Homo sapiens: one gene and its partners. The protein of the gene in region 3 purifies or fractionates together with the protein of the main gene of each other region. This does not show direct contact. Each region holds a gene or a part of one and is shown on either strand. Other genes may lie near its edges.

Evidence for each region.
Region 1: the proteins of PPM1E (region 3) and STX17 purify together in Homo sapiens (affinity purification with mass spectrometry; one large-scale study listed by BioGRID and IntAct). This does not show direct contact.
Region 2: the proteins of PPM1E (region 3) and SERPINB4 purify together in Homo sapiens (affinity purification with mass spectrometry; 2 studies listed by BioGRID and IntAct, with this or other methods). This does not show direct contact.
Region 4: the proteins of PPM1E (region 3) and DNAJA3 purify together in Homo sapiens (affinity purification with mass spectrometry; one large-scale study listed by BioGRID and IntAct). This does not show direct contact.
Region 5: the proteins of PPM1E (region 3) and COX4I1 purify together in Homo sapiens (affinity purification with mass spectrometry; one large-scale study listed by BioGRID and IntAct). This does not show direct contact.
Region 6: the proteins of PPM1E (region 3) and PSMG4 purify together in Homo sapiens (affinity purification with mass spectrometry; 2 studies listed by BioGRID and IntAct, with this or other methods). This does not show direct contact.
Region 7: the proteins of PPM1E (region 3) and UQCRC2 purify together in Homo sapiens (affinity purification with mass spectrometry; one large-scale study listed by BioGRID and IntAct). This does not show direct contact.

What each region holds. Positions count from the first base shown.
Region 1 is NC_000009.12:99,909,654-99,913,153, reverse strand, and holds part of STX17 (syntaxin-17), read right to left. Parts: intron 999-3,500; exon of another isoform or gene 1-998. UniProt on the Homo sapiens protein: SNAREs, soluble N-ethylmaleimide-sensitive factor-attachment protein receptors, are essential proteins for fusion of cellular membranes.
Region 2 is NC_000018.10:63,639,008-63,641,256, forward strand, and holds part of SERPINB4 (serpin B4), read right to left. Parts: intron 1,985-2,249; coding exon 1,867-1,984; intron 770-1,866; coding exon 627-769; intron 334-626; coding exon 178-333; intron 1-177. UniProt on the Homo sapiens protein: May act as a protease inhibitor to modulate the host immune response against tumor cells.
Region 3 is NC_000017.11:58,754,727-58,758,653, reverse strand, and holds the start of PPM1E (protein phosphatase 1E), read right to left. Parts: upstream 2,801-3,927; 5' UTR 2,657-2,800; coding exon 2,193-2,656; intron 1-2,192. UniProt on the Homo sapiens protein: Protein phosphatase that inactivates multifunctional CaM kinases such as CAMK4 and CAMK2. Dephosphorylates and inactivates PAK. May play a role in the inhibition of actin fiber stress breakdown and in morphological changes driven by TNK2/CDC42.
Region 4 is NC_000016.10:4,446,368-4,449,867, forward strand, and holds part of DNAJA3 (dnaJ homolog subfamily A member 3, mitochondrial), read left to right. Parts: intron 1-518; coding exon 519-647; intron 648-2,365; coding exon 2,366-2,481; intron 2,482-3,500. UniProt on the Homo sapiens protein: Modulates apoptotic signal transduction or effector structures within the mitochondrial matrix. Affect cytochrome C release from the mitochondria and caspase 3 activation, but not caspase 8 activation.
Region 5 is NC_000016.10:85,802,695-85,805,131, reverse strand, and holds part of COX4I1 (cytochrome c oxidase subunit 4 isoform 1, mitochondrial isoform 1 precursor), read right to left. Parts: intron 196-2,437; coding exon 28-195; coding exon of another isoform or gene 1-27. UniProt on the Homo sapiens protein: Component of the cytochrome c oxidase, the last enzyme in the mitochondrial electron transport chain which drives oxidative phosphorylation.
Region 6 is NC_000006.12:3,261,947-3,265,247, reverse strand, and holds part of PSMG4 (proteasome assembly chaperone 4), read right to left. Parts: intron 1,565-3,301; coding exon 1,489-1,564; coding exon of another isoform or gene 1,424-1,488; exon of another isoform or gene 1,075-1,423; coding exon of another isoform or gene 923-1,074; exon of another isoform or gene 1-922. UniProt on the Homo sapiens protein: Chaperone protein which promotes assembly of the 20S proteasome.
Region 7 is NC_000016.10:21,959,861-21,963,360, reverse strand, and holds part of UQCRC2 (cytochrome b-c1 complex subunit 2, mitochondrial precursor), read right to left. Parts: intron 902-3,500; coding exon 845-901; intron 601-844; coding exon 476-600; intron 1-475. UniProt on the Homo sapiens protein: Component of the ubiquinol-cytochrome c oxidoreductase, a multisubunit transmembrane complex that is part of the mitochondrial electron transport chain which drives oxidative phosphorylation.

The DNA of each region.
Region 1 (3,500 bases), on a different chromosome or scaffold from region 3:
GAAGGGAAATTGCAAAACATTAAAGAACAAGAATCATTAAAAAAATGAGACATAAAAGACTGACAAAGCAATAATATATTGCTTTTAAAAGCAAGATATTAAAAGACAGAAATACCTTCAAAGTGCTGAGAGAGTTGGTATATTCCCAGGTAAATTATCATTTAAAATGAAAGCAAAATAATCATTTTCAGACATACAAGGACTAAGAGAGTTTATTACCAAGCCCCTCATTAAAAGTACTTAAAGGAATATTTCAACAATAAAGAAAATAAACCCAAAGGAGTGGAATAGCAAGGAGCAATGAATAGAATAAACTGTTAACGGATAGAATAAATGGGTGGATGAAAGAACAAAGAAAATAAAACATTTATTTTGAATAGTGTGATGAAGTATAATAAAAATGTTTCCATGTAAATAATTTTCTATAATTACGTAGATGCTTCACAATTTTACAAATTGGCTATTATTGGCTATTTAGGTTGTTTCTAATTTTCCACTATTATAAACTACAGTGTAATTACCCTGCTTACACATAAATCCATACTGCTGCCTATAATTATTTCTTTAAAACAATCAACAAAGACACAACCTGTATAAAGGGAGAAAATATTTGCCAACTAGTCATCCAACAAGGGACTAATATCTAGAATGTATGAGAAACTCAAACAACTCAACAGCAAAGAAACAAATAGTTCCATTAAAAAGTGGGCAAAGAATCTGAATAGACATTTCTCAAAAGAAGACATACAAATGACCAAAAGGTATTTTTTTTAATGCTCAACATCATTAATCATCAGGGAAATGCAAATAAAAACCACAATGAGATACCATCTCACCCCAGTTACAATAGCTATCACCAAACGGATAAAAAATAACAAATGCTGGTGAGGATGTAGCAAAAGAGGCCTCTTTTTTTTTTTTTCTTTTTAGATAGATTTTCGCTCTTGTCACCCAGGCTGGAGTGCAGTGGCACGAGCTCAGCTTACTGCAACCTCTGCCTCCCGGGTTCAAGCAGTTCTCCTGCCTCAGCCTCCTGAGTAGCTGGGATTACAGGCACATGCCACCACGCCCAGCTAATTTTTTGTTTTTAGTAGAGACGGGATTTTGCCATGTTGGCCAAGCTGGTCTCGAACTCCTGACCTCAGGTGATCCACCTGCCTCGGCCTCCCAAAGTGCCGGGATTACAGGCGTGAGCCACGACGCCTGGCGAGAAAGAGGACTCTTATACACTGTTGGTGGGAATGTAAATTAGTACAGCCATTATGAAAAACAGTATGGGCTGGGTACGCTGGCTCATAGCTGTAATTCCAGCACTTTGGAAGGCTGAAGCAGGAGGATCACTTGAGGCCAAGAGTTTGAGGGCAGCCTGGGCAACATAGCAAGATCCTTCTTCTCTGAAAAATTTAAAAATTAGCTGGGTGTGGTGGTGGGTGCCTGTAGTCCCAGTGACACCAAGGTGGGAAGATCCCTTGAGCCCTAAAGTGTGAGCCTGCAAGAAACAGTGTTCTTACTACTACACTACAGCCTAGGCAACACAGTGAGATCCTGTCTCAAAAAAAGAAAGAAAAACTGTACAGAGGCTTCTCAAAAAATTAAAAATAAAACTACCATATGATCCAGCAATCCCACTACTGGGTATTTATCCAAAGGAAAAAAAATCAGTATATCAAAGAGATACCTACAGCCCCATGTTTATTGCAGCAGCATTCACAATAGCCAAGATATGGAATCAACCTAAGTGTCTGTCAATGGATGACTGGATAAAGAAAATGTGGTGTATATACACAATGAAATACCGTTCAGCCATTAAAAAAAAGAATGGGTCAGGCGCGATGGCTCATGCCTATAATCCCAGCACTTTGGGAGGTGGAGGCGGGCCGATCAGGTCAGGAGATCGAGACCATCCTGGCTAACATGGTGAAACCCCGTCTCTACTAAAAAATACAAAAAATTAGCCAGGCGTGGTGGCATGCACCTGTATTCCCAGCTGCTCCGGAGGCTGAGGCAGGAGAATCGCTTGAACCCAGGAGGCGGAGGTTGCGGTGAACCCAGATCTCACCACTGCACTCCAGCTTGGGCAACAGAGCGAGACTCCGTCTAGGGAGAAAAAAAAAAAAAAGAATGAAATCCTGTCATTTACAACAACATGGATGGAACATCTAGCCTGTACTCCCAGCTACTCAGGAAGCCGAGGTAGGAGGATCACTTGAGCCCAGAAATTAGAAGCCAGCCTGGGCAATATAATGAGACCTCCATTTCTAAATAAAAAGGGGGAAAAAAGTTGATCTCCTGGAGGTAGAGAGTAGAGTGATGGGAAGGGGCAGGAGGGGTGAAGAGAAGTTGATTAATGGGTACAAACATACAGTTAGATAGAAGGAATACATTATTCATGTTTAATAACACAGTGAGGTAGCTATAGTTAACAATAATTTATTGCATATTTCAAAATAGCTAGAAGATCTGAAGTGCTCCTAACACAAAGAAATAATAAATGTTTGACATGATATATATCCCAAATACCCTGATTTGATCATTACACATTGTATGTATGTATCAAAACATCACATGTATCCTATAAATATGTAAAATTATTGTGTATTAATTGAAAAAAGTAACATAAAAATAAAAAATAAATATCTAGAAATAGAATTATTAGGTAGACAGATTTTTCAAGGTTTTTAAAACATATATATAGCCATATCCCACAAAAGGTTATGCCTATTATGTTCCTACCAGAAACATAACACAATGTCCATTTATCCATATTCCAAGCAATATACTTAGTATTATCATTCTTAGACATGTCATTGGTGAAAAAAATGATGTCTCATTATTGCTTTACTTTGCATTCCTTAAATTACTAACAGGGTGGATTTATCAGCCATTTGCATTTCTTTTTTTTTTTTCTTTTTTTTTGTTTTGAGACGGAGTCTCACTCTTTTGCCCAGGCTGGAGTGAAGTGGTGCGATCTCAGCTCACTGCAACCTCCGCCCCTTAGGTTCAAGTGACTCTCCTGCCTCAGCCTCCCAAGTAGCTGGGATTACAGGCACGTGCCACCACGCCCAGCTAATTTTTGTATTTTTAGTAGAGACGGGGTTTCACCATGTTGGCCAGGCTGGTCTCGAACTCCCGACCTCAGGTGATCCACCTGCCTCGGCCTCCCAAAGTGCTAGGATTACAAGTGTGAGGCACCATGCCCAGCTGCATTTCTTCTTTTTTTAATTTTTAATTTTTGTGGGTATATATTAGTAGTAGGTATATATTTATGGGATATTTGAGTTATTTTGATACAGGCATACAATGTGTAATAATCACATTAGGGTAAATGAGGTATCCATCACCTCAAGCATTTATTCTTTGTGTTGCAAACAATCCAGTTATACTCTTTTAGTTATTTTTAAATATACAATTGAATTATTATAGTCACCCTGTTCGGCTATCAAGTACTATATTTTATTCATCCTCTATCACTATTTTTTTGTACTCATTGCATTTCTTCT
Region 2 (2,249 bases), on a different chromosome or scaffold from region 3:
GTTTGTGTCAGGCCCTATGCTCAAATATTTGTAATATGAAGGTGAGTCATCATTCCTCATTTAGAATTTTTCATCATTTTGAGGCAACTCGGTCATAAGCTTTTACCTTGTTTAAACTTGGTATCTTTGGAAAAATGTCCGGCAGTAGAAGGAAGAGTTGTAGATGCAAGTTCTTACCTTCTGCAGACCATCGATTTCATTTGGCAGCAGCACAATCATGCTTAGATCTTTGCCTTTGTATGGTATTTCCAGGACCTTGGCCTGTACATCCTCCAGCAAGGCAAAATTAAAGGAATTGTATTGCCTCATCATCTGTACAGATTTGTATGTATTCTGCAATAAATCAATGTGTCCAACAAATAACACGTGAAACACAAGACAAAAAAGATAATATTATTGAGATAGCAACACATCCTTCTTCTTCTAAGAAATAACCCAGGAATTCCATGAGTTAGAAACAATAGTTTTTCAGGTATTCCTAACTAAATAAAGTTATAAGAGTAAAACAACAAAATAACAGACATGAACAATTTTTATTTTTTACTTATCATGTTACATTCCATCAGAAATGTTTAACATTCCATGTATTAACATATTACACTATATAAATAAAATATAGACAATACCTTGTTTGGCCAAAATTTTTCCTCTTTAGTGTTTTCTTTTTTAAATTTATTCTCCCACTGCCCTTTGAAATAGATTGCGTTCACAAGAACCAGTGTCGTATCATTGCCAATAGTCCCATCAGGAAATAGGTTTTTAATTTTTTCTGCAAGGGAAAGAATAAAAGAGTCTTTTACACAAGCTACAAATGGCTTGTCTGGAAGATGCTTTGCAAATGTTCGTGACTGATCGTTAATTATTGACCCAAATCCCTGCTTGAGACTCACTGACTTTGATCTTTGAATTGTTAGACTCACTGACCAGTGGTTCACCAGATGCAGCTTTCTTCAAGGCTCCAGTCGTATAAAGTTACCCTTGATGGAGACATCACTTCTTGTGATAGAGAAGGAGTTCACGTTCTCTGTGTATGAATGTCTCCAATCATCTGATTTGGAATACTGATAAACTGATTTTGTCTACTCTTCCAACATGTGTCTTTCCTTTCTCCCTCCCTCCTCTTCCTACTTTTATTTTTTTTTAACTACGGGGTCCCCATTCAGAGGAAGGAGGCCCTGATTGCATTTTAGGATGAGTGACTTGAGCTCTGTAATATGAAACGCATGTCCTGTGCTGTCAGACACTACTTCCGGGGGTATCTTCCTATTCACTCTCATGTTGAGTTGCTGTAAGTTTGGCCTGTAATGAGAGGTGGGAGGTAAGAAAGATGTCTGTAGAATGGAGACTTTGTCAAGCTCTTTGCCCTTGATGGGGAAGAGAGCTGTGATAATCCCTGCAGAACACATTGGCTACAGATGTGATCCAGGCAGCTCCAGCTCAGAGACAAAAGGGTGATTTACCAGAGAGCTGCTTGTTTCCCAATTAGTAAAGGAGACGAGAGACGCTTTCTAATGTTTTCTATTAAATATTCATCATAAAAATTTGAGTCTGATTTAAAGTAAAGGATATGATCTCAAAATAGGCCTGAGCGGAGACAGGGGATCCACAAAGCTATTGTCATGCAGGGCCATAAGCAAATAATTCTCCAGATGTGTTTCCATCTAATTGGCTTCCTGTGATTTCCTCCTTGGCTCCCCTAGGCTCTCTTCATATTCATTTGGACAAATCCTTCATCTGGAGTGCCCTCTTCAGCCCTCCCTGCAAACCCATCTCAATCCCCACACCTGTTCCCCCATGCAGTGTCAAGCACAAGGCTCACTGGCATAGGTTTCTCAAAGGTGTTTCTATAATGGGTGGCTCTCCTACCATTCGTTTGACTTTCCACCCAGGAGTTAATCTTCTTTCGACTTTCTTCTGGAGCATTTGCAAAATCAGTAGATTCCACACTGGTCTGGTAAAATTTCTTGATGGCATCTAAATATTCCTTTGAGATATGAAGGAAGAAGTAGGAATTAGGAGTAATTTATGTAACTATATATTACCAAACTTACTTATTTGTAACAACAGTAAGCTGAATCCAGACCCTGAATAGATGCAGTATCTCCTGTCCATGGATATTTTTATACAGGTGTCATGTAGGCAATGCAAAAGGGGAATGTGGGCTGGCACAAGAAAGAGGTCACTGAAGGTCAATATCATCTTGGCAAAAGGCAGAAGCAGAAGAGGCTGTGGTTTGCAAACTGCAGAGC
Region 3 (3,927 bases):
TTCCAACTTTAATTTTGCTAGTTTTATTTCAAATCCAAACTTCTGTTCTCAACTAGATGGCCATTTTATCATTTCAGTTTTTTCTAGTTTATACCTATATCAAAATTAATCTTTTTTTTTTTTTTTGAGACGGAGTCTTGCTCTGTCACCCAGGCTGGAGTGCACTGGCACAATCTCAGCTCACTGCAACCTCTGCCTCTCGGGTTCAAGCGATTCTCCTGCCTCAGCCTCCTGAGTATCTGGGATTACAGGCGCGCGACACCACGCCCAGCTAATTTTTGTATTTTTAGTAGAGACGCAGTTTCACCACGTTGGTCAGGCTGGTCTCGAACTCCTGACCTCATGATCTGCCACCCCGGCCTCCCAAAGAGCTGGGATTACGGGAGTGAGCTACCGCTCCTGGCCGCTTCTATATGAAAAAACACACATCTTCTTGCCATCATCTTTAAATAAGTTAAAAAAAAAAAACCTTCTTACATGGCAAATGTTCAGGGTTGTACTAAAATAATGACCTTATTTGGACACTTTCTAAAGTTTGAATTGGTTTAATTCTGCAAACTGCATTTGTAAAGGTAAGAATTAACTGTCAAGATAGAGCCAGTCTGCTGCTAAGATAAATTCCCTTAATAAACATTTCCATTTTATTTTAAGCAGGGAGCTTTATCTTTAAATACTGTAAAAAATTACATCTCAGAAGCCCTTGTCTATGATAGTTCACAAAGACCAGATATACTCTAAAATGTTAATACTGTTTATCTCTGGGTGGTGGTATTACACGCCATTTTATATTTTACGTTTCTCAAAAAGCATCATTACCTTGCTAATTGACGGTAATACTGTAATTGAACAGTATTTTAAAATTAAATTTTAGATAGCTTATATTATGAAATACCAACACAGTCCACTTCTATGGAAGATTTGTTAAATGATTTTCCCCTATTGATAAACTGCTGCTTTAACAGGAGAATGATCTGATCAGGTGTCTATTAGCTTGGATGAAGACAAAACAGGTTTACTTTCCAGGCCCTTCTTTTCTTTAGGCTTTTGAGAAAATCCCAAAAGTGAGTTTGAACTTAATTACAGCGAATCTTGCAGTAGTAAACTTTTTGGGTGGCCAGAGTAACACCTTTCATTACAACTATCAGCTGAATGGCAAAAGACTTCCCAGGTTTACCAATGTTTTCAGAGACTTACTAGTATTCTCCTCTGTCATTATTTCGGAACAATTCCATTGAGAAACGCAATTGTAAACCGTTTCTATTTCAGGCCTATAAAAACCAGAACTGGGATGAAAGGCAAAGCCTTGACCTTTCTATTTTAGACTTTCATCTGTGTAGCTAAGCCATCTGCTTTCTCCCCACCCCATCCCATCTACTTAATGGACTGAAAATACTGCACCTAATTGCAATTTAATCAAAACAGCCTGACTTTTCCACTTTAATGAATTATGGCTCTTTCACCCGAAGGCTTGCTTGCAAAATTTTGCTTACCCTTCCCTCTCAATTCCTTCCCACTTCCCTCAATTATGGAATGTCAAATGTCTAAACTAAGAGACTAGGCTTCCCTGTGTGAAAACATCTAAAAAGCCCTTCACTTTCAACACTGAGCACCTGACGGAAAATCTACTCCATTCTCTCATCTGGATACGGGGCCGGTATAACCATCATTGTTGCAGTTACGCAGGAGGCACCTCGCAGCTCAGTCTAGAAAGGAGTCGCGTCTCTGCCGCCAAACAACAAGGCACTCAGCCCGGGAAAAGACAGACTGGGGTGGGAGGAAACCTCCCGGAGAAAGAAGGGATCTGGGAAGAAGAGGGAGCTCAAGCCTGGGAGGAAGGACCTTTCCAGGCAGGAAAGGGAAAGGTTGCGTGAAGTGGAGCTAGAAGCTGGGGGCCGAGGTGAAAGGGGATGAGGGGCCCGGGCCCGGCGGGAGGGCGCCGGGGCTCAGGAGAGCGGCTTCAAGGCCGGGTAGGAGGCGTGGGGGCCGAGGCGGGCGTGGGGGCCGAGGCGGGCGTGGGCAGCTCTCAGCCGACCGCCCGGGTCCGAGCAGCGGGGGCGCTTTCAGCGGCGGCAGGCGCGGGTGCGGGGGAGAGGAGCAGAAAAGAGAGCAGTTTGAGGGGCCGAGGGAGCCGCGTCCGAGGCCGGCGCGGTGGGGACCGCGGGCCCACCACCAGCCAAGCCCAGCTACTTAACTATTTGTAGAGCTGCTGCAGGCACAGGTCCAGGCTTTCGCCCTCCACCTCCTCGCGGGTGATGCGCTCTGACAGCGGTCGCGGGAGCGGGGGCAAAGGCGGCAGCTGGGGCGGCGGCGGCGGCACGGCCGAGTGCCCCGGGGCTGCCGCCGCCGTCGCCGCGCCCTCCTCCTCCTCCTCACCCTCAACCGCCGCCTCCTCCTCGGGCTCCGGGTCTTGCTCCTGGTCCCCCTCCTCCGTCGCGGCTACCGTGGCCGCCTCCTCCCCGGGTTCCTCTACCGAAGCCTCGGCCGCCTCAGCTTCTACCAGTTCAGGTTCGGGCTCGGGCTCGGACTCGGGTTCGGGTTCGGGTTCGGGTTCGGGTTCCGGCTCCGGCTCGCCGCCGCCGCACGGTCCGCGAAACTCGCCCAGGAATAGCTCCAGGAAGCGCCGGTAAGTTTTCTCCTCAGGGATGCAGCCGGCCATCGCTGCTCATGCCCCAGGGCAGACCGGGAAAGGGGTTGGGGGAAGCCCAGGAAGGGTAAGGGGCTGCTTTTGAGCCTAGGGCTCCGGCAAGGGCGGTTAACGGCCGCACCGGCACGAGCGATCAGCACTAGGTTGCCTGGAGAGGGCTCCCGCAGGCGTGCGCGCCGCCGAGCACCGACGTGCGCGGCCCGGGGGCGGAGCGCGCCGCCCCTCTCGGATCTGGAGGGAAAGTTGGTGGCGGGCGCGCGCAGGGTCCAGCGGCGGCCCACCCTTTATTCCTACGGAGAGCTCAGCCCACGCTGCCTAGAGACTGTCGCCATGGCAACCGGTTCTAATTAAGCATTGCAGGGTCCCTCCCGTCGAGTCCGCGGAGTCTAAAGGACACTCCACTCGCCCGCTCTCCAACTCTGAATGTCTTTATTGGTTGGATACCCTACCCTCACGTGGTTAAGAGTGAGCTAAGACATCTCCAAGTCTAGCTGTTGGTTCCCACTTGGGTTGCTTGGATCCCAATTGGATGTACTTCCATTTCCTTATCTGTTCCTTGCCTTAGCGTATGTTTTGAAAGATACCACACTGTGAACACCTTTTGTTGCAGTCTTTGAATAAGTAGTTTTCAGGCAGAGGGAGCTTCAAATACCTACCAAGTGATAAGTTCCTTTGCATAGGTTCTCTCTCACTTGATTCTGTGAAGAAAGTGGTGTTACTCTCATTTCTTAAAAGGAAACTGAAAATTATGATATTAATGGTAATTTACTTGTTTCAAGGTCTCCAAACTTCCAGCCTTGGCGTTGGAGAACTCAGGTCGTTCAGTCGCCAAAGCTTTCCGAAAGTGCATTTTTCCTTAACTCAACTCTGTCTCCGGAGATTCAATAGTGCAATTGTCTGTATAACACCTTATTTCTATTGGGCTTCATAGTTTACACATTGATTTCACCCTTTTAATTCTTACCACAGTCCCTTGAGGTATAGGACGTTACCGTTATGATTTTTTTTTTTTTGAGACAATCTCGCTCTTGTCACCCAGGCTGGAGTGCAGTGGCGCGATCTCAGCTCACTGCAACCTCCGCCTCTCGGGTTCAAGTGATTCTCCTGCGTCAGCCTCCCAAGTAGCTGGGATTACAGGGGCCTGCCACCACCCCCGGCTAACTTTTGTATTTTTAGTAGAGACGGGGTTTCACCATATTGGCCAGGCTGGTCTCAAACTCCTGACCTCAGGTGATCTGCCTGCCTCAGCCTCCCAAAGTGCTGGGATTACAGGTGTGACCCAC
Region 4 (3,500 bases), on a different chromosome or scaffold from region 3:
TGAGTAGCTGGGATTACAGGGGCCCGCCACCACACCTGGTTAATTTTTGTATTTTTAGTAGAGACAAGGTTTCACCATGTTGGTCAGTCTGGTCTCAAACTCCTGACCTCAGGTGATCCACTCACCTTGGCCTCCCAAAGTGCTGGGATTACAGGTGTGTGCCACTGTGCCTGGCTAAAGTAAGATTAAAAAAAAAAAATCAAAAGCCAGTTTTACATTTTTGTTTCCCTTCACGATTGAATGGCTTGATCTGAGACTGAGGAAATCCAGGCACGCTTCCATTTCGGCATTTCAAGTGTGTAGAACATTGCAGTGTTGAAATATGTAGAACATGTCATTCCTGGGCCTGGGATGGTGTCTCCTTGTTGGAAGGACAGTTCTTTCCCTCAACACTGCACTTTATGTATGGAAGGGGTGTGTAGTTTGTCAGGTCTGAGCTTGGGCCTGGCCAGGCATGCAGCTGGTGTTTAGTCTGCAGTGGACTTATCTTCACATGCATCTGTCATGTTTGGCCTTAGGTGCAGAAAAGCCCTGTGTTCCGGAGGGACGGCGCAGACATCCACTCCGACCTCTTTATTTCTATAGCTCAGGCTCTTCTTGGGGGTACAGCCAGAGCCCAGGGCCTGTACGAGACGATCAACGTGACGGTAAGAGGGTGTGAGAACACCTTTGTCACCCCTGTACTTTATTGCTCTTTTTCTGAAATGGAAAAGAACTGACCAGTGGCCTGGAACCCATGAGTGACCAGCATGTGGGGGGGCACTCACAGGGGAGGACATGAGGAATTTTAGGCTGCTCCTTGAGTGTGGACCACAAGCCACAGGCCTTGAGTCTATAATCGCATGGGAAGCAGTTCCTGGCTGGCATCACTCCCACACTGGTTAGCGGGGCCTGGGAACTGGGCGCATTCAGGACACAGAAGGGTTCACCCTGGGTTGTGCTCTCTGCACTTGCTTCTGTCCAGTGTCTGGCTCCAAGAGCAGAAGACTCGGGCGGTGCATATCCCTTTTGCCACAGTGATGGCTGCCTGTGTGCTGCCAGCACCTGTCCCCCACCTCTCTCTTGACCTGCCCCTCCAGCTCTTCCCACCTCCAGGCCACATCATTCTCTGTATTCGCCTCAGAACCTTCTCCAGCTTCTTTGTGGGGAACCTTGGGGTAACCTCCATGAAGGAGGTGGGCATTTTGGGCCAAGGCTTTCTCCTCCATCTGGGGGCTATTCCCTGGCTTCTCCAGGGTCCTGTGGTTCCAAGGGCCAGGGAGCGACCTCAGCCACGCACCCTGTATTGGCTTTTCCTGCTTTGCTCCCTCACTCCTGCTTCCTGGGCTCACTTGCCCAAACTCTTGCCCCCTCATCCTAGTCACAGGCTCTGCTCTGGGCAGACCCAACTTAGCTCATTTCCATGTGCTTGTGGGCGGGCTTGGCCCAGAAACCCAAGTGGTGGTTCTTTTTTTTTTTTTGAGATGGAGTCTCGCTTTGTCGTCAGGTGCACGCCACCACACCTGGCTAATTTTTTGTATTTTAGTAGAGACAGGGTTTCACCGTATTTCCCAGGCTGGTCTTCAACTCCTGATCTCAGGCAGTTCACCCGCCTCGGCCTCCCAAAGTGCTGGGATTAAAAGGCGTGAGCCACTGCGCCCAGCCCAGTGGCAGTTCTTTTTTTTTTTTTTTTTTTTTTTTGAGACAGAGTCTTGCTCTGTCGCCAGGCTGGAGTGCAGTAGCGCGATCTTGGCTCGTGGCAATCTCCGCCTCCCAGGTTCAAGCGATTCCCACCTCAGCCTCCTGAGTACCTGGGCCTACAAGCACGCGCCACCATGCCTGGCTAATTTTTTGTATTTTAGTAGCGATGGGGTTTCACCATGTTGGCCAGGAAGGTCTCAATCACCTGACCTCGTGATCTGCCTGCCTCAGCCCCCCAAAGTGCTGGGATTACAGGCATGAGCCACTGCGCCCGGCCTTTTTTTTTACCCACCCCCTCCACCACCGCTCTGCCGAGACAGAGTCTTGCTCTGTCAGCCAGAGCTGGAGTGCAATGGCACAATCTTGGCTCACTGCAACCTCCGCCTCCCGGGTTCAAGCAATTCTCCTACCTCAGCCTCCTGAGTAGCTGAGATTACAGGTGCACGTTACCATGCCCTGCTGATTTTTGTATTTTTAGTAGAGACGGGGTTTCATCATGTTGGCCAGGCAGGTCTTGAACTCCTGACCTCGTGATCAGCCTGCCTCGACCTCCCAAAGTGATGGGAGCGTGAGCCAGTGGTAGTTCTTTTCAAGGAATTCCTATCAAGATTGTCTTCATGTAGTGAAAACTTTTTATTTGAGCAACTGGGGACCAGGGGAAACCACAGATTTTCTTTCTTTATAGATCCCCCCTGGGACTCAGACAGACCAGAAGATTCGGATGGGTGGGAAAGGCATCCCCCGGATTAACAGCTACGGCTACGGAGACCACTACATCCACATCAAGATACGAGTTCCAAAGTAAGTGCCCCCTAGGCTGTGGCCAAGCCCGCCTGGTCCTGCGGTGGCACTGCCCTTGGAGCTCTGTGGCTTGGGCAGGTTACTGCTCCCTGTAAGTCAGGTGGTTCCTGCCCGAGTTATCTGTCTGTAAAGTGGACATAGTAGAATGGTCAACTTCTTTTTTTTTGAGATGGAGTCTCGCTGTGTCCCCCAGGCTGGAGTGCAGTGGCGCCATCTCGGCTCACTGCAACCTCCGCTTCCCAGGTTCAAGCGATTCTCCTGCCTCAGCCTCCCGAGTAGCTGGGATTACAGGTGCCTGCCACCATGCCCGGCTAATTTTTTGTATTTTTAGTAGAGATGGGGTTTCACCGTGTTAGCCAGAGTGGCCTCAATCTCCTGACCTAGTGATCCACCCACCTTGGCCTCCCAAAGTGTTGGGATTACAGGCGTGAGCCACCATGCCCGGCCAGAATGGTCGACTTCTTGGAGTTGTTGGGAGAATTAAATGAACAACACATAGGAATTGCTTTGCTGCTGCTGCTATTGTTGATTTTCTTCTTTTTTTTTTGAGAAGGAATCTGTCACTGTGTTGCCCAGGCTGGAATGTGGTGGTGCCATTTCAGCTCACTGCAACCTCCTCCTCCCCAGTTCAAATGATTCTCCTGCCTCAGCCTCCCGAGTAGCTGGGACTACAGGCGCTTACCACCACGCCCAGCTAATTTTTGTATTTTTAGTAGAGACGGAGTTTCACTGGCCAGGCTAATCTCGAACTCCTGACCTCAGGTGATCTGCCCACCTTGACTTCCCAAAGTGGTGGGATTACAGGTGTGAGCCAGCACGCCTGGCCCGTTGCTTTTCTTGTTGATGTTACTAGCACTGTTAGGAGCTGGAGAGGTGGCCTGGGCAGAGTGCTGTGGGTACCTAGGGCGGGACATGCCTGACTCCCCTCGGGAGCACTCATGCTTTTTGTTAATTAGATAATTTCTTTTTTTTTTTTTGAGATGGTGTCTAGCTCTGTCTCTAGGTGGAGTTCAGTGGTG
Region 5 (2,437 bases), on a different chromosome or scaffold from region 3:
GCGCCTGTGGGTCCCTTCAATACCCACACTCGACTTTCTCATCCATGGAGAGGCTGCTCCAGGAGGCCTTCTCCTTCTCCTTCAATGCCTTCTGGCTGGCAGACAGGTGCTTGACATGGGCCACCTCCGGCAAGGGGTGGTCACGCCGATCCATATAAGCTGGGAGCGAAAAGTCTTCGCTCTTCACAACACTTTCTGAAAAACATATTGAATAAATCTTTGAAAATCCATGTAAGTTGAGAGTCACCCCAAGGTGATACTTCTGAAAACCGAAACACAGACATGTGCACGCCTTGAAACCCTGGATCATCTCAGGGGGTCACAGCCACTGTTTAAACAGTTGCAGGAGTGTGGTGGAGGGGGAACAGAAGCACTTCTCATCACAGCCAACAAAAACCCACCAGGGGCAACTGCTAATGAACCCTGGGGCCAAGGTGCCCAGAGGCAGCACTTCCTACATTAACAGTTACCTGCAGGGCTGGGCGCGGTGGCTCACACCTGTAATCCCAGCACTTTGGGAGGCCCAGGCAGGCGGATCACGATGTCAGGAGATCGAGACCATCCTGGCTAACATGGTGAAACCCCGTCTCTACTAAAAATACAAAAAATTAGCCGGGCGTGGCGGCACGTGCCTATAGTCCCAGCTACTCGGAAGGCTGAGGCAGGAGAATCGCTTGAACGCAGGAGGCGGAGGTTGCAGTGAGCTGAGATCGCACCGCTGCACTCCAGCCTGGTGACAGAGCGAGACTTCGTCTCAAAATAAAAAAATAAAAATAAAAAAACCAGTTACCTGCAGACGTGGGCCAAGGCCCTCAGGGCTCCCTGAACAGGTGACTGGACAAAATGAAAGCCTATCTGCAAGGGACTCAAACTAATGAGGAAGAACAAAAACAATAAAAAACTCAAAGCGTTTCAAGTTCAGAAACAAAGACACGTGAGAAGATAACCACAACAGCACTGTTCCAGGGAACCTGTGTCCAACCAGGACTGAGTGAGAAATCGTGCTAGCTCTTAGAAACGAGGATCATGGAGCCATTCATTCAGAGCACATTTACCAAGCACCCTCTACAGGCAAGGCAGGGTTCTAGAGATCTGGGATCATCAGTGAACAAATCAAACATTCCTGCCTAGTGGCACACTTCTAGAAGTGGAAAACAAACAATAAACATAACAAATGTGCAAATCACATGTTTGGAAAAAGTACTCTGGAGAAAGAGTAGAGCAGCGGGGCATCAGGAATGTGTGGATGGCACGAAACAAGGGGCAACGTCCACAGGACGAGGCCGACCTAGGAGCCCAAATGCAGAGGAAGCGTGCACTCAGGAGTCACAGAGCACGGGCAGTATCGTGCGCTTCTCCTTTCTGGAAATCACGTGCACATACTCACATACGCGTAACGAAACGCACAAAACAGACAAGGCAAGCCACAAACTGTTATACAGGTAGGAAGGAGGAAGATCTGAGTGAGGATTTCTGCTCTATCTGCTTCTGTTATTTTAGTGCCTTCAAAGCAGCAGGTATCACATGGAAAAAAGTTCAGAAATCAGAAAGGTAAGGAATAGCTTGGTTGTACTGAGAGTCTTCCCACTGTTAGAAGCTGTTTCTCCAATTCTGTCCTATGTCTGCAAGAACTCTTTGTATTACACACTGGTCTGGAGGTACAATGCCCGCAACAATGCTTCAACTCCATTAGCTCAGTCCCAGTGACTAAAATCACCCAAATCATGTGAACAGTAAATCAACATTCAGCTTTAAGCAAGTCGTATATAGACTTCTCTAGATGTTTCTCTTAGCCGTGCAAATGACTGGCATACTTACAAACTTATACTTGACACCTCATCCCAAAACTGAGCTGGGATTTGAGGGACAGGAGATGGAAATGGCCTAAATTACTTTCTAATTTTAAAACCCTAATTCTATGAAAATGATGAGTGAACTATAAAGAACACTTGTATACTGAATATTTTTATCAAGTTCAGCACCCCCCAGAAGTCTCTAAAGTTTAAAACACTCAGCTTACACATGAGAGTTATTAAAAATAAATGTAAATATGGGTGATGAGAATGTTCTAGAACTGACTGTGGTGCTAATGACAAAACTCAATGAATATACTAAAAACCACTGGAGCATACACTTTAAATGGGTGACTGTTATATGAATTACATCTTGTAAAGCTGTTGTAAATGCCATGACAGGGAGACTGGGGGGAAAAAGCTATTATAACGACGTAAACCCTCAAAACCTTGGCGCATGCAAACCTCAAAATTGCATCTTCCAGAATAAGAATGGCCAATTCATGGTTTCAGGGGTTCTTCAGAGCTTCAGGCCTGGTCCCCCAGCAATTAAGGGAAAATCAATGGTTAATATACCAAACATTTCTTTTAGAGAGAGAGAAAAACAAAGACTCCAGATTGTAAGGAATGTTTGTCACCGCTTC
Region 6 (3,301 bases), on a different chromosome or scaffold from region 3:
GGCAAAGCATGGGACTTTGCTGGAAAACCTTCTTGGTCCGAGCTCTGCAGCACCATTCCCTTAAGAGACGCCGGAAGCCACGGCACACCCGTGACTTGTTGAGACAGTCGAGATACTGAGAACCCCTCTTTTTTGCATATAGATACTAGGCCTCCATCTCGCAAATATTCTGGAGACTAATTTACCTTATTGATATGAAAGTTATTCACGGCCTGCCAGACAAGCTCACACCACCTTCTCTATGGGAGTGTGTCCGCAACCCCACCCAGCTTTCCGTCTGTATAAATATGAATACCTTCCTGAGCCTTCTCCCACACGCAGTAACCTGTTCCATGTAAGTGTGCTACCCCTTACACAGTCACACACACAGAGTGACACAGACACAAAAGGCAGCTTTACTTTCATGTGGCTCAGAAAAAAAAAGATACAAACACAAAGAGGGAAGGGTGGCAAGTGGGAAATTGGGGCAAAAGCTAAGCAGGAATTCTATCTTCTTTGCAACTTTTCTGTAAATTTTAAATTTACTTCCTAGTTAAAAATTACCAAATTAACTTACAAGTCAGGTCCCCACCTCCAAGGGAGGGAAAAAGAATACTGCGAGTTCCTGAAATGCTGACCTGTGCCCTCCCTGACCTCTGTCCTATCCACATACTGTCATGGGCCTGCTGGTGACACTCCACCCTGCCCTGCCTTCCCCCTGGGCCAGGTGCCATGCTATTCGTGTGCATTTGCCTCAGTGTGACTGACACAGAGGTTCCTGCTTGTCAGGTACCAGGTCCTGTGCCTGAGACACAGAGAAGACTCCAGAGCAGAAGCAGCTGGGCCTACTGGAGAACGCCAGGCCTGGGCAGGAGACAGGCATCCTGTGCACACTGGCCACAGGCACTGGGGCTGGGGGTCGCAGAGCACATGGAAGCCTTACCTGGCCCACAGGAAGTGTGTTGGGGTGTGGGAAGAGTGGAGCATTCAGCCTCATGACCTTTGCTTAATCCCCACTCTACGCCACACTCACAGGCCAGGCCAGTCTTCCCTCCGAGCCCTGAACGGTATCACACTGAGTGAGGACAGTCCTTCCTGCACAGAGGTGACACCTGCTCCACCAGCTGCACTGACTCCTCCTAAGGCCCGGGAGGCTACCTTGAGCCACCACCCACAGGGGCTGTGGGCACTTCTCATGCTCTCCTCCCAGGAGGTGGTGATGCACTTACGGAAGGCAACTAAATCAGCTCATGGACTCAAGGACACACCCAAGGACGAGGTGGGAGTCCTTTGGGAACAGGCCAGCCCTGGGACGGTGGTGATGACAGGCGAGCATGGAATGTGCCCCTTAAATAAGACCCAACGTGCAAAGGTCTGTGCTTCCCAGCAGCAATGAGGTGATGGTTCTTAGCATAAAGATGCTTTACTTCCGAAGGGACTTGCTTCATGGTTCCATTAAAGAGTGGGCCCCACCTGGCTGGCCATGCAGCGCCAGCTGTGGGTACATACCTAGGCGCTGGGCAAGGCCAGTAGAGGTCGTGTCGGAAGTGTCTCCAAGGAGGGAGGTAGACACGGGGATGGAGTCCTAAAAGAAAAGCAAAGGGCACACTGCAGCTTCTCCACCCCCCGCAGGCCAGCCACACTTCTGGCTTCCGGGCTTCTGATTCTTCACGACGATGGCAGTGGCAGGTTCAGAGAGGACAGGCACAGGTGCCGAGGGAAAGAGGGGTGGCGTCCGTCAACAACCAAGTAGGTGGACCCCATGTCGCATATGAGGTCAGCGGAGTTGGGAAAGATGAAGCTGGAACCACAGTGCTACTAAGTTCTAGGACCAGTTTCACACGAAAGGCTCGTTTTAGTGTCTCAAACTCCAAAGCATGCTGAAGGGCAACACCACAACCAAAAGGGAAGCAAACAAGATCATTAAGGCTACAGCAAGAAGAAAGTGACTCACAGTCGGGGCACCTGTGCACTGGTGCCTCGTGCCCCACAGCAGCTGGCTCAGAGGCAGGATGCCTAATCTCCTCATCTCAGCCTGTGAGGGAGCATGCTGCTCCAGCCCCTGTGGGCTCCTCAGGGTCAGCGAGTGCCTTGTGACTTTGATACAAAGGGCACCAGCCACCAGCATCTAAATAGGGAAAATAACTTCTGAACATGCTTGGCCAACCTCATTTCAGACAAGAAGCAGTAAGGTGAAACAAGCAGTACAAATGATTCTCAGATCAACAAATGGGCCCTCCGGCGATGTGGGAGTAACTGCTCCCAACTACTTTGGGAGTAATCTCTCACCATTAACAATGTCTAGCTAGTCCCAGAATCCCAGCACTTTGGGAGCCTGTGGAGGGAGGACTGCTTGAGACCAGGAGTTTGAGACCAGCCTGGACAATGAAGTAAGATCTGTCTCTACATTTTTATTAAAAATAATAATAAAAAAATAAAGTAAGAAGGTCTAGCTTCCAAAGGGGGAAAAAAAAAACACTTATTGGTAATATGGCCAAAATTGCTTTTATCAAAATAGCAGATTTCTAGGAGAAGCAGCCTGGCTACAGAGGTCTGAGAATCTTGGAAAGTGGCAAGGTTTTTAGAGGTACAGAGACTTTGGGGTTTGGTTCCCCTGCCACCCCAACTGTCCTGGTGGGGACAAGTTAACTGAACAAACAGCTACTGTGTGCCAGACAGTATGGCAGGGCAGAGACCACAGGCGCTGCTCATCTCCTAAAGGTTCAAAGCCACTTCCACAAAAGACAATAAAAGGCAGGAGATCAAAAAACACAGGAGAAGAATGAAAGCATTTACTGTATGCTTCTTCACTAAAAACGATACAAAAATATCTTAATGAGCCTGCTGTTTACAGATTCCTCAAGTTCAACATTTAGCTGCATGGTAATAGTATGTACAGTTAAACCTTCTAGAAAAAAGAAAATCTACCTTACCCAGGGTGGCCTTTTTCTACCAAAAGTTAAATGTAAAGCCCCATCGTGTCACCCTTAATAGTTCATTACTTCCGACATCACACTAGGACTGTGGTCTCCCAGCAGATGCCCAGGGAGTTCTGCTGCAGCTGAAGCACCACCTTCCACTCCTAGAGGCCGGGCGGGGGGTCCAAGAATCCCTGAGCAGGCACGGGCCCAGGTCCCAGGCCAGCTTCCCTCAAGCTGGTAGGACTCAGTGTCACTAGTCCTGCAGCCTCTCTGGGCACCAAAAATCCCTGCTCAACCCAAGGTCAGCCAGCTCCGGGTTGCATGGTGTCTGTTCTCTACAGTCTCACATGTGGGAGTTTAGGGAAGCTGGAGGGAAGAGACCTCACAGACCGTCTGGTGCC
Region 7 (3,500 bases), on a different chromosome or scaffold from region 3:
AATAATAAATCTAAATAACAAATTTTTGAAAAAGATATTTTCAAATTCAAGGAGTAAAACATTTGGCCAGGCATGGTGGCTCACACCTGTAACACCAGCACTTTGGGAGGCTGAGGTGGGTGGATCACTTGAGGCCAGGAATTCAAGACTGAACTCCAGTCTGACCAACATGGCAAAACCCTGTTTCTACTAAAAATACAAAAAATTAGCCAGGTGTGGTGGTGCACACCTATAATTCCAGCTGCTCAGGAGGCTGAGGCAGGAGAATTGCTTGAACCCGGGAGCTGGAGGTTGCAGTGAGCCAAGATCGTGCCACTGCACTCCAGCCTGGGTGACAGAGTGAGACTCTGTCTCAAAACAATAAATAAATAAAAATAAAAATAAAAATTTTGACAGCAATTTTTTTTCTTCTATAAATTGATCTTCTAAAAAACCCAGTATCTTAGAATCAAATGTGATCTGGAAATGTACTTACGAGTCTGCGGATTCTGAAAGGCCACAGCTTTGTCAATCTTTAGCTGAGGCTGAAGGTCAGCTACTTCCCAACGACGAAATTCTGGTGCTGTGGTGACATTGAGCAGGAACTCCATTAGAATATCACTACAGAAGACATCGAGATAAGAATTATGAGTCAAAAATGTAAAGCCAACATTTGAGATTCTACATAGCTGTAATGCTCTCAATGTGAAACTTTAGGTCTTGTGGTAAGCAGTGTTTTTGAGCAGTTTATGAACAATAATCCAAAATGGAAGTCAGAGGTCATAATGACGCATTACAAAGACCAGAAGTGAGCAGCTTAGTATTTCTTTCAAAGCAGAAGTCCTAAACACACACAGGTACTTACACATCACCCCGCAGGCATTCCACAGTATAAGCCATGTTTTCCCTTGTTGCGGTCACACTGAATCGGAAAATAAACTAGAGTAAATCATCTGAATCAGGATAGTAAGCTTTCCCTTATAATCTTCTATCAACCAATTCCTTTGGAAAGAAAATTTCTGAAGTATAAAAGGTGCGAACAATAATATAACAAAACTCCACATATTAACCAACTAAAATTCAAAATTTTTTTAAAAACCAGCAAATAATTCAACCTTAAAAGGAGTGAAATCTGGTCACATGTTACAACACAGATGAACCCTGAGGACATTATGCTAAGGATAATAAGCCAGTCACAAAGGGACAAATATTGTATGATTCTACTTATGAGGTACCTGGAGTAGTCAAATTTGTAGAGACTGAAAAGAGAATGGCAGTTGCCAAAGGCTGAGGGGAGGGGAGAATGAGCAGCCATTGTTTAACAGGTACAGAATTTCAGGTGGGAGAAGATAGAAAAGTTCCGGAGCTGAATGTTGGTGATGGTTGCTGAATGCCACTTAACTGCACACTTAAGAAAATGATAAATTTGGGCCGGGCGCAGTGGCTCACACCTGTAATCCCAGCACTTTGGGAGGCCGAGGTGGGCGGATCACTTGAGGTCAGGAGTTTGAGACCAGCCTGGCCAACAGGGTGAAACCATGGTCTCTACTGAAAATACAAAAATTAGCCAAGCATGGTGGCGCACGCCTGTAATCCCAGCTACCACGGAGGCTGAGGCAGGAGAATCGCTTGAACCCAAGAGGCGGAGGTTACAGTGAGCCAAGATCATGCCACTGCACTCCAGCCTGGGCGACACAGCGAGACTGTCTAAAATATATATATATATATATATATATATATATATATATATATATAAATTTTATGTTATATACATTTGACCACAATTTTTTAAAATGGCAAATAAAGTTGAAGATCTTTTCGTACCCTTCCAAGACCAATTCCCTCACTCTCTCCCACTCTGGAAACCACAATCATAAGCACTACATAGTATTTTTCTGCTTAAAAAATTAAAATACCTTAAAGAAATCTTGAAACTTGCTTGTTCACACTCTATTTTGCCCTTCAGTTGTGCTATGTTGACGTATGGATCTAGTTCATTCCGTAATGGCTGTATAGTGGTCTCATCATGACTCTGTCATACTTTACCCATTTCCCTAAAGATGGACACTTAGATCGTTTCCAGTCTTTATAAAGAATACCTTTGTGAATGTGATTAAAAACTGTGGGGTTTTTCAATATTACCAGATATTCCTTGATTCTTTCCTAAGTGGTTGTATCAATTTATACTCCTATCAGCAGAATGAGACATTCTCTATCATCTTTACCACTGACAACACAATATATAAAAAATCTGGGCTGGGTGCAGTGGCTCACATCTGCAATCCCAGCATGCTGGGCTGAGGTGAGAGGATCACCTGAGGCCAGGAGTTCAAGACCAGTCTGGGCAACATAGTGAGACCTCCATTTGTACAAAAAATAAAAAATTAGCCAGGCATGGAGTCATGTGCCTATAGTCCTAGCTACTTGGGAAGCGGAGGGAGAAGAATCGCTTGGGCCCAGGAGTTCAAGGCTGCAATAAGGTATGTCTGCACCACTCCACTCCAGCCTGGGAAACAGAGCAAGACCCTGTCTTTAATATAAATTAATTAAAAAAAAAGAAATGCTGTTTCTGTCCTGAGTGTTCCACTGACCAGCTGCTCCCCAAGTCTTTCTCCCTCTCTTTGGATATTCCTACTCCTGAGACACAACAATATTGAAATTAAGCTAATGAATAACCCGACAATGGCCCCTAAGTATACAAGTGAAAGGAAGAGTCTCATGTCTCTCACTTTAAATCAGAAGCTAGAAAGGATTAAGCTTCTAAGGAAGTCAGGAAGGCATGTTAAAAACGGATACAGGTCAAAAGCTAGGCCTCTTGCACCAGTGCAGTTCTTGAAGAAAACTAATAGTGCTACTCCACTGAACACATAAATGATATGAAAGCAAGACAGACTTATTGCTGATAATACAGAGTTTTACTGGTCTGGATTAGATCAAACTGTATTCCCTTAAGTCAAAGCTTAATCCAGAGCAATGCCCTAACTCTCTTCAATTATATGAAGGCTGAGAGAGGTGAGATGCAGAAGAAAAGTCTGAAGCTAGCCGTGGTTAGTTCATGAGCTTTAAGGAAAGAAGCCATCTTCTTAATATAATAGTACACAGTGAAGCAGCAAATGCTAATATAGAAGCTGCAGCACGTTATCCAGAAGATCTACATAAGATCATCGATGAAGGTGGCTACACTAAACCACAGATTTTCAATGCTGACAAAACAGCCTTACATTGGAAGATGCCGTCCAGGACATTCGTAGCTAGAGAAGTCAATGCCTGGCGTCAAAGCTTCAAACGACAAGCTGACTCTTGTTGGGGACTAATGCAGCTGGTGACTTTAGGATGAGGTCATTTACCATTCTCAAAATCCTAGAGCCCTTAGGAATTATGCTAAATCTACTCTGCCTATGCTCTGTAAATGAACAAAAAAGCCTGGATGATAGTACATCTGTTTATAGCATGGTTGACTGAATATTTTAAGCCCATTGCTCAGAAAAAAGATTCCTTTCAAATTATTACTGCAACAATGC